2 separate regions of the Homo sapiens genome follow, and region 2 is linked to region 1. Evidence: fine-mapped expression QTL. A gene starts in region 1. The other region holds a variant in brackets. All regions are shown on one strand. Distances are between the middles of the regions.

The links. PIP is the estimated chance that this variant, and not a neighbour inherited with it, causes the effect. A credible set is the group of variants that fine-mapping cannot tell apart.
Region 2: its variant is the best candidate, but not a certain one, in a credible set for the expression of RNGTT in whole blood (INTERVAL, PIP 0.69).

Annotation. Positions count from the first base shown.
Region 1 is chr6:88,960,351-88,965,543 of GRCh38, reverse strand. RNGTT (RNA guanylyltransferase and 5'-phosphatase) reads left to right here and starts at 1,926. Exons shown (of 16, transcript NM_003800.5): 1 at 1,926-2,198. The coding sequence starts at 2,135. RefSeq lists a silencer at 1,629-1,863 and enhancers at 1,847-2,226, 2,581-3,507.
Region 2 is chr6:88,803,119-88,808,311 of GRCh38, reverse strand. All of the region lies in intron 11 of RNGTT (RNA guanylyltransferase and 5'-phosphatase), which reads left to right. Among named protein-coding and RNA genes, the nearest start is that of RNGTT, 160 kb to the left of the region's middle. The variant T/C (reference allele first, on the strand shown) is at 2,079.

The sequences.
Region 1 (5,193 bases):
AGGTTTTTCTCAAGGAAAAGTCCTAGGAAAAGGGAAGACAGATAAGATCTCTCTCTTTTGCCAAAAGAGAACGTTCAATCTTATTTTTTACATGTACACACTCTTCCTTATGGGCAAAATGGATGTTTGATGAAAGACTCACCAATGAAGAGAATCTACATCTGATAAAGAGGAGATCAAGACATATCTGGGAGGGTGTCAGGGGTTCCAGGAAGCGGGGGAGGAATCATGTTGGTCTGTCTGTGAGCATCTATTTTTCTTCTCACAGAGTAGTAGAAACTTGGGACTAGGAGCAATATAGGCAGAAACACACATCAGGCAAGGCATTCCTGACAGGCAGAGAGAAACTGCCTGCTCATCGGGATGCCACTCTCCTACTCTACTCTCTATTGTGGACAAAAGGTAGCCACAGGGTCCTCCCAATTCTGTGGCAATGAGTATGGAGAGGGCATAACTGGATAGCAGAATAAAAATCCAGTGCACATTGCTGCCTTACAGCCAATAACAGTTGCTCGCCAGTGGTATGAAGCTTCTGTGTGCCTAGGACTGAGCTACTGGGTATAGCGTGTGTGGGAAGGGGAGTCACCAAGGGGAGTCATCCCCAGAAGGGGAAGGTAAGATACTCTTCCAGGATCAGGCTCACCTTTCCCATCCTTGGAGGGGGTCTGGGGATGGAAGGTTTTTACCACTTTGGGCATGGTACACACTCTATCAGCAGAAAAGGGAATTCATCGGAGATTATTTGGGTAGACTGATGGCCTTAAAGGAAACTGGGTATTATCTTGTTCTGTCAGGGGAGGAGTTTACACCTTCACTAACAGTTCTGAGCAGATGCAACAGCAGGACAGACCAGAAGTGTGACCTAACTCAGGCTGCCTCAGAGAGATTGCTGTTGGACTGCCTCTATTGATGGGACTCTTACTGAGGGGGTCCAGGCATTCAGGGGGTTGAGCGTCCCAGAAAGTTCCCCACCGACGCTTTAAAAATGTATTCCCTGCAGCCTTACGTTCTTGCAGTTCCAATATAGCATTGGTGTTTAAAGCCAAACTACATTATAATTGATTCGCCATCATCCAGCTTTATATTTAACACTTTAATCTGGTAACAAAGGAAAGGCTCGTTAAAGGACGGCATTTATAAAAATTTTTCAAGCACCTCTGCTTAACTCGAAGGGAAAATAAAAGGCACTGTTTATTTGGTAGGCCAAGGAGAACAACGCCACGAAGAGGTTCTCCACTGATCAATTCCTACCTTTGTCAATTATACCACATTAATTAGTAACTTTTTTTGGAGACATGGACCCTCTCAAACTCCCCAGTATGCTTTGAAACTTTGATCCAGAAATGTACAAACAAAACTCTAAGTGTTCTGGAATTAATTTCAGAAGCTTCATAGATCCTCGTAAGTACTCACCAAAAGAAAAATTCCCCATTTCTGGTACTCCAATCTCATGTCCTTAGAATTCTCCTAAGACTTGTTCCCTTGAACAACTTTCCCTAATTGCAAATCAAACCTAGATCCGGCTGGGACGCCAAGCTTGAGCTGTGGTAACGCTCAGAAGGCCTCTTTTCATCAGTAAAATAGATGCCTTAACGGAAGTGGCGGGCAATCTACGCATGGAAAGGCGCTTGGCTTCCCTCTTTTTTGGGTTTCTCTAGGTTGTCTGGATGGGAAAAAAATACACGCTTCGTCCTGCGGAGTTCGGTACGAGGGCAATTGCACATGCGCAAAGGCGAACCAGTAGCGTCCGGGCGCGTCCGTGGAGCGGGACGGGGCGGGGCGGGGCGGTGCCGAGTGGGGCGAGAGAAGGCCCGCTCCTCCCATTCGTCGCGTCCTTAACTCTTTGCTATCCTTCCGCTGAGCTTCCTCTTCTTTCCCTCTGACCTCGGAAAGGGGGCGGGGCTTTCGGGGGCGGAAGTTGCGGTGCATTGTGGGTTCTCCTGGAGCTGTGGAGTTGATCCTGAATGAAAGTGGCGCGCCGCCCCTGACGTTACCCGGATCGGAGAGGTTGGAATTCAGATTACGGCTGCGATTCGGGTGTCTCGGACCCCGGTGTGCACCGGACCACGGGGAGGCGGCTCCAAAGGCGCGGTGAACGTTGGTGAGGGAGGGCAGCTCTGCGCAGCCCCAAGACATGGCTCACAACAAGATCCCGCCGCGGTGGCTGAACTGTCCCCGGCGCGGCCAGCCGGTGGCAGGTAACCTGGACTGGGGGGCGTTCGAATCCCCACACTCCAACGTGCCCGGGGGTGGGCCGACTGAGGAGCTCAGCTTTTGGTGGTTCTGTGCCCATTAGTGGTATTTCAGGAGCGGGATATGCTCCGTCGGATTACGCTTCGTGGATGAATGGGAACATGAACGGGAGGGGATGGTCGGCGGATGGGGGGCACTTGTTACTATTCCTGCAAGGCTAACTGTGCGAATGTGAAGGTAGACAGGAGGTTGGTGGCAGGAGGTGAGGATCCAGGAATACAGTGGGCGTACTTTGAGTCTTAGTAGTTTGCGAACCTGTTAGGGTTCAACCTTCCCCTCGAAAGAAGGGATGAATATCAGTATTGAGATGGAGGAGGGTTAAGGAGGGAAGGGGCGGTTCCCAGCGGTGAAATGGGGTCACATTGAGACTGGGAATCTGGAGGGTGTTTTTGTTAGTTTTTTATTTTTATTTTCTTGTGAGACAGGGTCTCTTGCTCGGGCTGGGGATCCTCCCACCTCAGCCTCCCAAGTAGCTGGGACTACATGCTCCTGCCACCGCACCCGGCTAATTTTTTTATTTATTAAAGTATATATATATTTATAATGTATATATTTGAGACATAGTCTCTCTCTGTCGTCCAGGCTGGAGTGCAGTGGCGTGATCTCGGCTCACTGCCTCAGCCTCCCAAGTAGCTGGGATTACAGGCGCGTGCCACCACACCCGGCTAATTTTTGTTTTTAGTAGAGACAGGGTTTCATCGTGTTGACCAGGCTGGTCTCCAACGCCTGGCCTCAAGTGATCCGCCCGCCTCGGCCTCCCAAAGTGCTGGGATTACAGCCGTGAGCCACTGTGCCTGGCCATAATTTTTTTGTTTATTTTTTGTGGAGACAGGGTTTCACTGTGTTGCCCAGGCTGGTCTTGAACTCGTGGACTCAAGCGATGCTCCCACTTCGGCCTCCCAAAGTGTTGGGATTATAGGCGAGAGCCACCCCGCTTGGCCGGGTTTTTGTTTTTTTTAATTATTTTTCTTGTAGTTTTTTTCATCTTTATTGAGCTTGAATACAATAAGCTTTAAAGCGTACAGTTTGATAAATTTTGACTGTATATACACAAATATATCTCTTTCCTAGGAAACAACCATGAAACCCCTCAAAGTTTCCTCTTGCCCCTTTTTAAATCCCTCCTTCGCCTGGCAGCCACTGATCTGCTTTCTGTAATTATAGATTGGTTTGCATTTTCTAGAAATTTTTAAATAAATGGAAACATATAGTGAGTACTCTTCTTGGGGTGGAAGGAAGTGTGTGTGGCTTTTTTCACTCAGCATAATTAATTTGATACTCATCCAGATTATGCATGTATCAATAGTTTATTCCTTTTTTATTGCAGAGTAGTAGTTTATTGTTCTGGGTATACCACAATTTGTTTACCTGTTCATCTATTGATGGTCATTTGGGTTATTTCCAGTTTTTAGCTATTACAAATAAACCTGCTGTGAACATTCATGTACAATTCTTTGTGTGGACATATACTTTCATTTCTCTTGTGTAAGTCTCTAGGAGAGGAATGGCTGCATCATATGGTAGGTGTATGTTTTAAGAATTTTAAGAAACTGCCAACCTCTTTTCCAAAGTGGTAACACTTGATAGTCCCACCATCAATGTATTATACAGAAGAAATTCAAAGGACTTAAAAACTAGCAAAAAATTTGGACACTTCACAAAATAAGTTATATGAATAGCCAAAAAGCTATGATGGCGTGGTGGTATGTGCCTGTAATCCCAGCTACTCGGGAGGCCGAGGCAGGGGAATCACTTGAACCCAGGAGACGGAGGTTGCAGTGAGCTGAGATTGCACCACTGCACTCCAGCATGGGTGACAGAGTGAGACTCCATCTCAAAAAAAAAAAAAAGTAATTTGTACTTATCGTGTAATTTATTAGTAAGGGTTCTCTAGAGGGACAGAACTAATAGGAAATATATGTACATATATATATATACACACACACACATACATACACACACACACATACAGACGTAAAGGGGAGTTTATTAACTGTTAACTCACACGATCACAAGGTCCCACAATAGGTTGTCAGCAAACTGAGGAGCAAGGAGAGTCAGTCTGAGTCCCAAAATGGAAGAACTTGGAATCCAGTGTTTGAGGGCAGGAAGCGTCCACCACAGGACAAAGATGTAGGCTGGGAGGCTAAGCCGGTCAAGTCTTTTCACATTTTTCTGCCTGCTTTATATTCTAGCCATGCTGGCAGCTGATTAGATGGTGCCCACCCAGATTAAGGGTGGGTTTGCTTTTCCCAGCCCACTGATTCAAATGTTAATCTCCTTTGCAACACCCTCTACACCCAGGATCAATATTTTGCATCCTTCAATCCAATCGAGTTGACACTCAGTATTAACCATCACAGTAATTTCTTTGATATTTTGCATATTGAGGAAAATGTTATGGCTGCTCAAACTTATATGTTGTAAATGTTAGGATTCACTTTACTAGTACTAGAAGTTCATAATTTTCCTGAATCAGAAAGAAAATGGTACTAACTACATATAATTTGTTTCTCTGTGAAGTCACTTTCTCTGATGAAACCAGACTTGCAATGAGAGAGAGCTCTTGGAGACAGGGCCAAGCTTTATTTTCTGAAGAACTGTTTTTTCCTCCTTCTGAGTTAATAGATTTCAGGTGAATACTTGGAAGAAAACAAACTTATAATTTCTTTTCCTTTTTCCTTTTTTTCTTTTCTTTTCTTTTCTTTTTTGTATTTTTAGTAGAGATGGGGTTTCACCATGTTGGCCAGGCTGGTCTCCAACTGCTGACCTCGGGTGATCCGCCTGCCTTGGCCTCCCAAAGTGTTGGCATTACAGGTGTGAGCTACCGCACCCAGCCCTCCCTAGTTTCTTAAAGATATATCATTCAACATAAAATTATTTCATATCTGCTATGTAAAGAGCTTACTAGGAACTGTGGGAATGTAAATATGAGACACA
Region 2 (5,193 bases), 160 kb after region 1:
TAATAGTATGCCACTTCCTAGTTGGGGTTCTTACCTCATTTCCTTTTATACAATTTGTTTTTACATATGTTATAAATCCTACAATACATTGTTAATATTTTTACTTTAATTAGTCAATTATATTGTAAGAAAAGAAAGAGGAACACAGATTTCTTATATTTATTCTAGTTTTTAACCATTCCAATGCCCTTCATTATTTCAGTTTAGATACAGATTTTATTCTTGTATCATATTCCTTCTACCTGAAAATTTTCTTTTAAAATTTCTTATATTCTAGCTTGGTGGAAATATGTTTTATCAGCTATTGTCTGTCTGAAAAAGAACTCTACTGTGCCTTTATTATTGAAAGATATTTTCATTTGCTAAAGATTTTTGGATTGACATTGTTTCTATTAATATTAGTATGTTAAAGGTGAGGTTTCATTGTCTCATGGCTGGCGTAATTTCAGATAAGGAGTCTGCTGTCAATCTTATTTTTGTTCCTCTGCCTGTAATCTTTTCCCCCTTCTTGCTGGGTTTTGACTATGATAAACCTACATTTTTTTTTTTGTTTTTCTTAAATCTTTCTTCCTGTCCTCTTGGAGTCCATTGGGGTGTGTGTTTGTGTTTATGTGTTTAATTAATTTTGTAGCAATTGGAGGCATTATTTCTCTCAGTTGGTTTCTTTGCTTCCTTGTATCTTTCTTTTTGTTTTCGCATTCCAGCTGTACAAATGTTCTGTCTTTGGCTGTAGTCTCCCAGCTCTTTGATTCTCAGCACTGTTTCTTTTTTCCCTCTTTTTTTCTTTTTGTATTTCAGTTGGAAAAAGTGCCACGTACGTTTCTTCTTTAAGTTTAGTGACTTTTCTCTTCTGTGTCCAGTCTGTGGATAATCTCATTGATTATCATTCCCACTGATTAACATTCTTTTTCTCTGATGTTGTGTGTTTTTATTTCTGCATTTTCAATTGTTTCATTTTTATTGTTTCCATCTCTGCTGAAACTCCATATCCGTTTATGCATGTTTTCCACTTTTTTGTCTAGATCATTTACAATGTTATTTTTATTTATTTATTTGTTTTATCAACTTTTAAGTTCAGGGTACATGTGCAGGATGTGCAGGTTTGTTACATAAGTAAACACATGCTATGGTGGTTTCCTGCACAGATCATGCCGTCACCCAGGTATTAATTCAGCATCCATTAGCTATTCTTCCTAATGCTCTCCCTCTCCCCATGCCCCCCACAGGTGCCTGGTGTGTGTTGTTCACCCCCATGTGTCCATGTGTTCTCATCAATGAACTCCCACTTATAAGTGAGGACATTCAGTGTTTTGTTTTTTCGTTCCTACGTTAGTTTGCCGAGGATAATGGCTTCCAGCTCCATCCATGTCCCTGAAGGATACGATCTTGTTCCTTTTTGTGGCTGCATAGTATTCCATTGTGTATATGTATCATATTTTCTTTATTCAGTCTATCATTGATGGGCATTTAGGTTGATTCCATTACTTTGCTGTTATAAATAGTGCTGCAATGAATTTACACATGCATATATCTTTATAATAGAATGATTTATATTCCTTGGGTATATACCCAGTAATGGGATTGCTGGGTCAAATGATACTTCTGCCTTTAGGTCTCTGAGGAATCACCACACTGTCTTCCACAATGGTTGAACTAATTTACACTCCCACTCACAGTGTAACAGTGTTCCTTTTTCAGGCCGGGTGCGGTGGCCCACACCTGTAATCCCAGCACTTTAGGAGGCCGAGGCAGGCAGATCACGAGGTCAGGAGATTGAGACCATCCTGGCTAACATGGTGAAACCCCCTCTCTACTAAAAAGACAAAAATTAGCCAGGTGTGGTGGTGCGCGCCTGTAATCTAGCTACTTAGGAGGCCGAGGCAGGAGAATCTCTTGAACCCGGGAAGCAGAGGTTGCAGTGAGCCGAGACTGTGCCACTGCACTCCAGCCTGGGCGACAGAGTGAGACTCCATCTCAAAAAAAAAAAAAAAAAGCGTGTTCCTTTTTCTCGACAACGTTGCCAGCATCTGTTGTTTTTTGTAAATGTTATTTTTAAAGTCTTTGATAATTCCAAAATA[T/C]AGACCCTCTCTTTGTCTGCTTCTGTTGACTGCCTTATCTTTGAATATAGGCCATTTATTTTTCCTTTGTGTATGTGTGTGTGTGAGACAGAATTTTTAAATTAGACGTCTTTCGTGGATTTTTCTTTCCTATATGAACAAAAGAGACTGAGGTAAGTATCTTTATGCTTGGTAACAGGCATACTTCTTTTAGTTTGTTAATAGGCTTCATTTGTGGGTGGGGAGGGGTAGTGGTTGAATCAGCCTGTTCTATGTGTTGCTATATAATTACATCTTCAGTGCTCCAAAGAATTTATATTTTCTCAGCAGTTGGCTGCTGTTACTTGTATTTATTGTAATGCCTAGAGTATAAAAGGGTTTTCTCCTGGTGTTTCTGTTTCACGTTTAGCTTTCAGTAGGCTCTGCTCCCCTGTACCACAGAGTGTTCTATTTTCATACTTCTAGTACTTTTCCCCATATGTAAACAACTGTTTCTTGCCGCTCAGTGCCAGACTTGTGAAGACTGTGGAGTTTTCTTAGTTTTTCTTCTCCAGCCTTAGTATTAAGCAGAACCTGAGCACCTGAATCGCAGGCATGGGGTTTTCCTCAGTGGGTCTTCCCTCTCCCTCTTGCCAGTGAAGTTTTGCCTTGCATAGGGATATTTTGTCAGGACCAAGTCTTTCTGCTTTTTATCAATATAATATCATTGGTCCAAGTCTGTCTCCAGCTTCTTGTATAGCTGCATATGGATTTATTCCCAGGTAACTTTTGCATCATATCAAGAAGGGTTTGGAAAGCAGGAGGGTTTTAACGTCTGTGCCCAACCAAGGTGGGGGCATTCTCATGTTTCCTGCCCTGCCTGTGGTCTTTCTTGTGAAGCCTGATAGAAGCCTGAGAAAAAGTTTGTATCTCTTGTGTTTTGGGCTTCCAGGGATTCTAAACTGTTCCACTCGCCCAGACTTAGTTTTTAAGAATTGGTCAGTTGTTGTTTTCTTTGTACTCACTTATGGCTGCCACTTCCTCTTCCTTTTCTCTACCAAAGAAGACATGAGTTCATATACTTCACCCTCCTTTGGAGGGGCTGGGATTCAGTTTATTTGGTTGCCTGCAGATGTCAGCTTTCTGATGGCCATAACAAAAGTTATTATTTGATAGATTATCTGCTTTTTTATTATCATCAGTGTAGAAGCAGCATTCTCTTACTATTTTTCACATCGTAAATGAATGAGGAACTTTTTCTTAAACCAACCTTTTAAAGGTATCTTCAAAGAGCAAAGCACTTCTAAGATTATGAACATAGATCTATGGAATGAATGAGGGGAAAAAGCATTTTCTTAACATTAGTCAACCAGTACTTGTAGCTTGGGATAACATCTGCAGTTATAATCTCATGTATGATTTGAAGAATGCTGTAAATCAGAGACAGCAGCAGGAAAAATAATGGAAACTGGCTAAATGACTTAAAAGTTGGCTCTAATGATGAAGATACTGATATATGGAAGATGGCCGTAACAAGTTTGGATACTTTTTTTTTTTAAGAATTGTAAATAAACAAAAGCTAATATTTCTAATTTAATAAACACATTACATATATGATCTCATATGAATATATAAATCAGTTAATATAAAGTATACAATATTAATAACATTTTTAGATTACATCTCTATTCTTAGAAAACCTTTTTTCCTTCAAGAATTTTATCTCCCTTCATATTCACTTTATTCATATAGTATATTCTATAATGCATTTAAAGTCTATAAAATTTTTGTTAAATATACAAATGGGGTCTTGCTGTGTTGGCCAGGTTGGTCTTGAACTCCTGGCCTCAGGCAGTCCCCTGCCTCAGCCTCCCAAAGTGCCAGAATTACAGGTGTGAGCCACTGTGTCTGGCCAAGTCTATAAAATTTAAGTGGCTATTGGAGGACCTATATATTTAGGAACTTGCAGAAATCTTTGGGGCATTTGTTTCAGAGAGTCATAAGACTTTATTTAGTTATCTCTTTATTTTTAGTTAAAGTCTGATGTAATCTGTTCTGAGTGATTTTACTTTACTCTCTGAATTAAAGCTAGTTGCTTATGTCTGATGACCTCAGTTTCCTTTTCTGGCAAATTGAGTAATAATTCAAAACTTGAGAATACACATCTCATGAGGAGTTATGTATTTTGAATGATATGTTAAGTACCAAGCACAACACTCCATTGTAGGTCTTTGATACATGATAGGTGATATCATAAATATTATGTGTCAAGTAAAGAAAAAAATATTGTCTAGAGTAATGCAGAGGAACTCTTATTTTGACCCATGAATTTTCAGTCCTTTAAATACTCTGATTTATAAAAAGAGTAGAATAAAAAATGAAATTACTTTCATTTCTGCAGCAGGTAGAATCATGTTATGTAGAGTCTTGCTAACTGGCTATTTTTTATTGTTACTTTACATACAGGCATGGTCCATTACATGAATTTGAGAAGTTTGGTTGAAGAATGGAAACTACCATGTTAACTTGCCATAAATGATGTACCTACAATACAAGTAGAGCAAATGAAAGATTAAAGGTTACATTTTTTTAACCTTTTTTTTTTTTTTGAAAAAAGAGATTATTGTGGTATTTGGTTTTTATTGCATCATTGCTCAGCAGAAATGCTATGAATTTAGTTTTTTTTTTTTTTTTTTTTTGAGATGGAGTCTCACTCTGTTGCCCAGGCTGGAGTGCAGTGGCACAATCTTGGCTCACTGCAACCTCCGCCTCCTGGGTTCAGGTGATTCTCCTGCCTCGGCCTTGTGAGTAGTAGCTGGGACTACAGGCGCGCGCCACCACACCGGTTAATTTTTGTATTTTTTAGTAGAGATGGTGTTTCACCATATTGGACAGGCTGGTCTTGAACTCCTGACCTCATGATCTGCCCGCCTCAGCCTCCCAAATTGCTGGGATTACAGGTGTGAGCCACCATGCCCAGCCAACTTTTTCATCTTTCAAAACTGAAACTCATTAAAGACTACCCCCCAAGCCTCTGGCAATTACTGATCTAATTTCTATCTCAGTGTCAGAAAGGAACATTAAAATTTTAAGGAAATATAGATTTTTAAACTCAAATTTGAACTGCCCTCAGTTTAGAGAAATTATAGATTTTGAA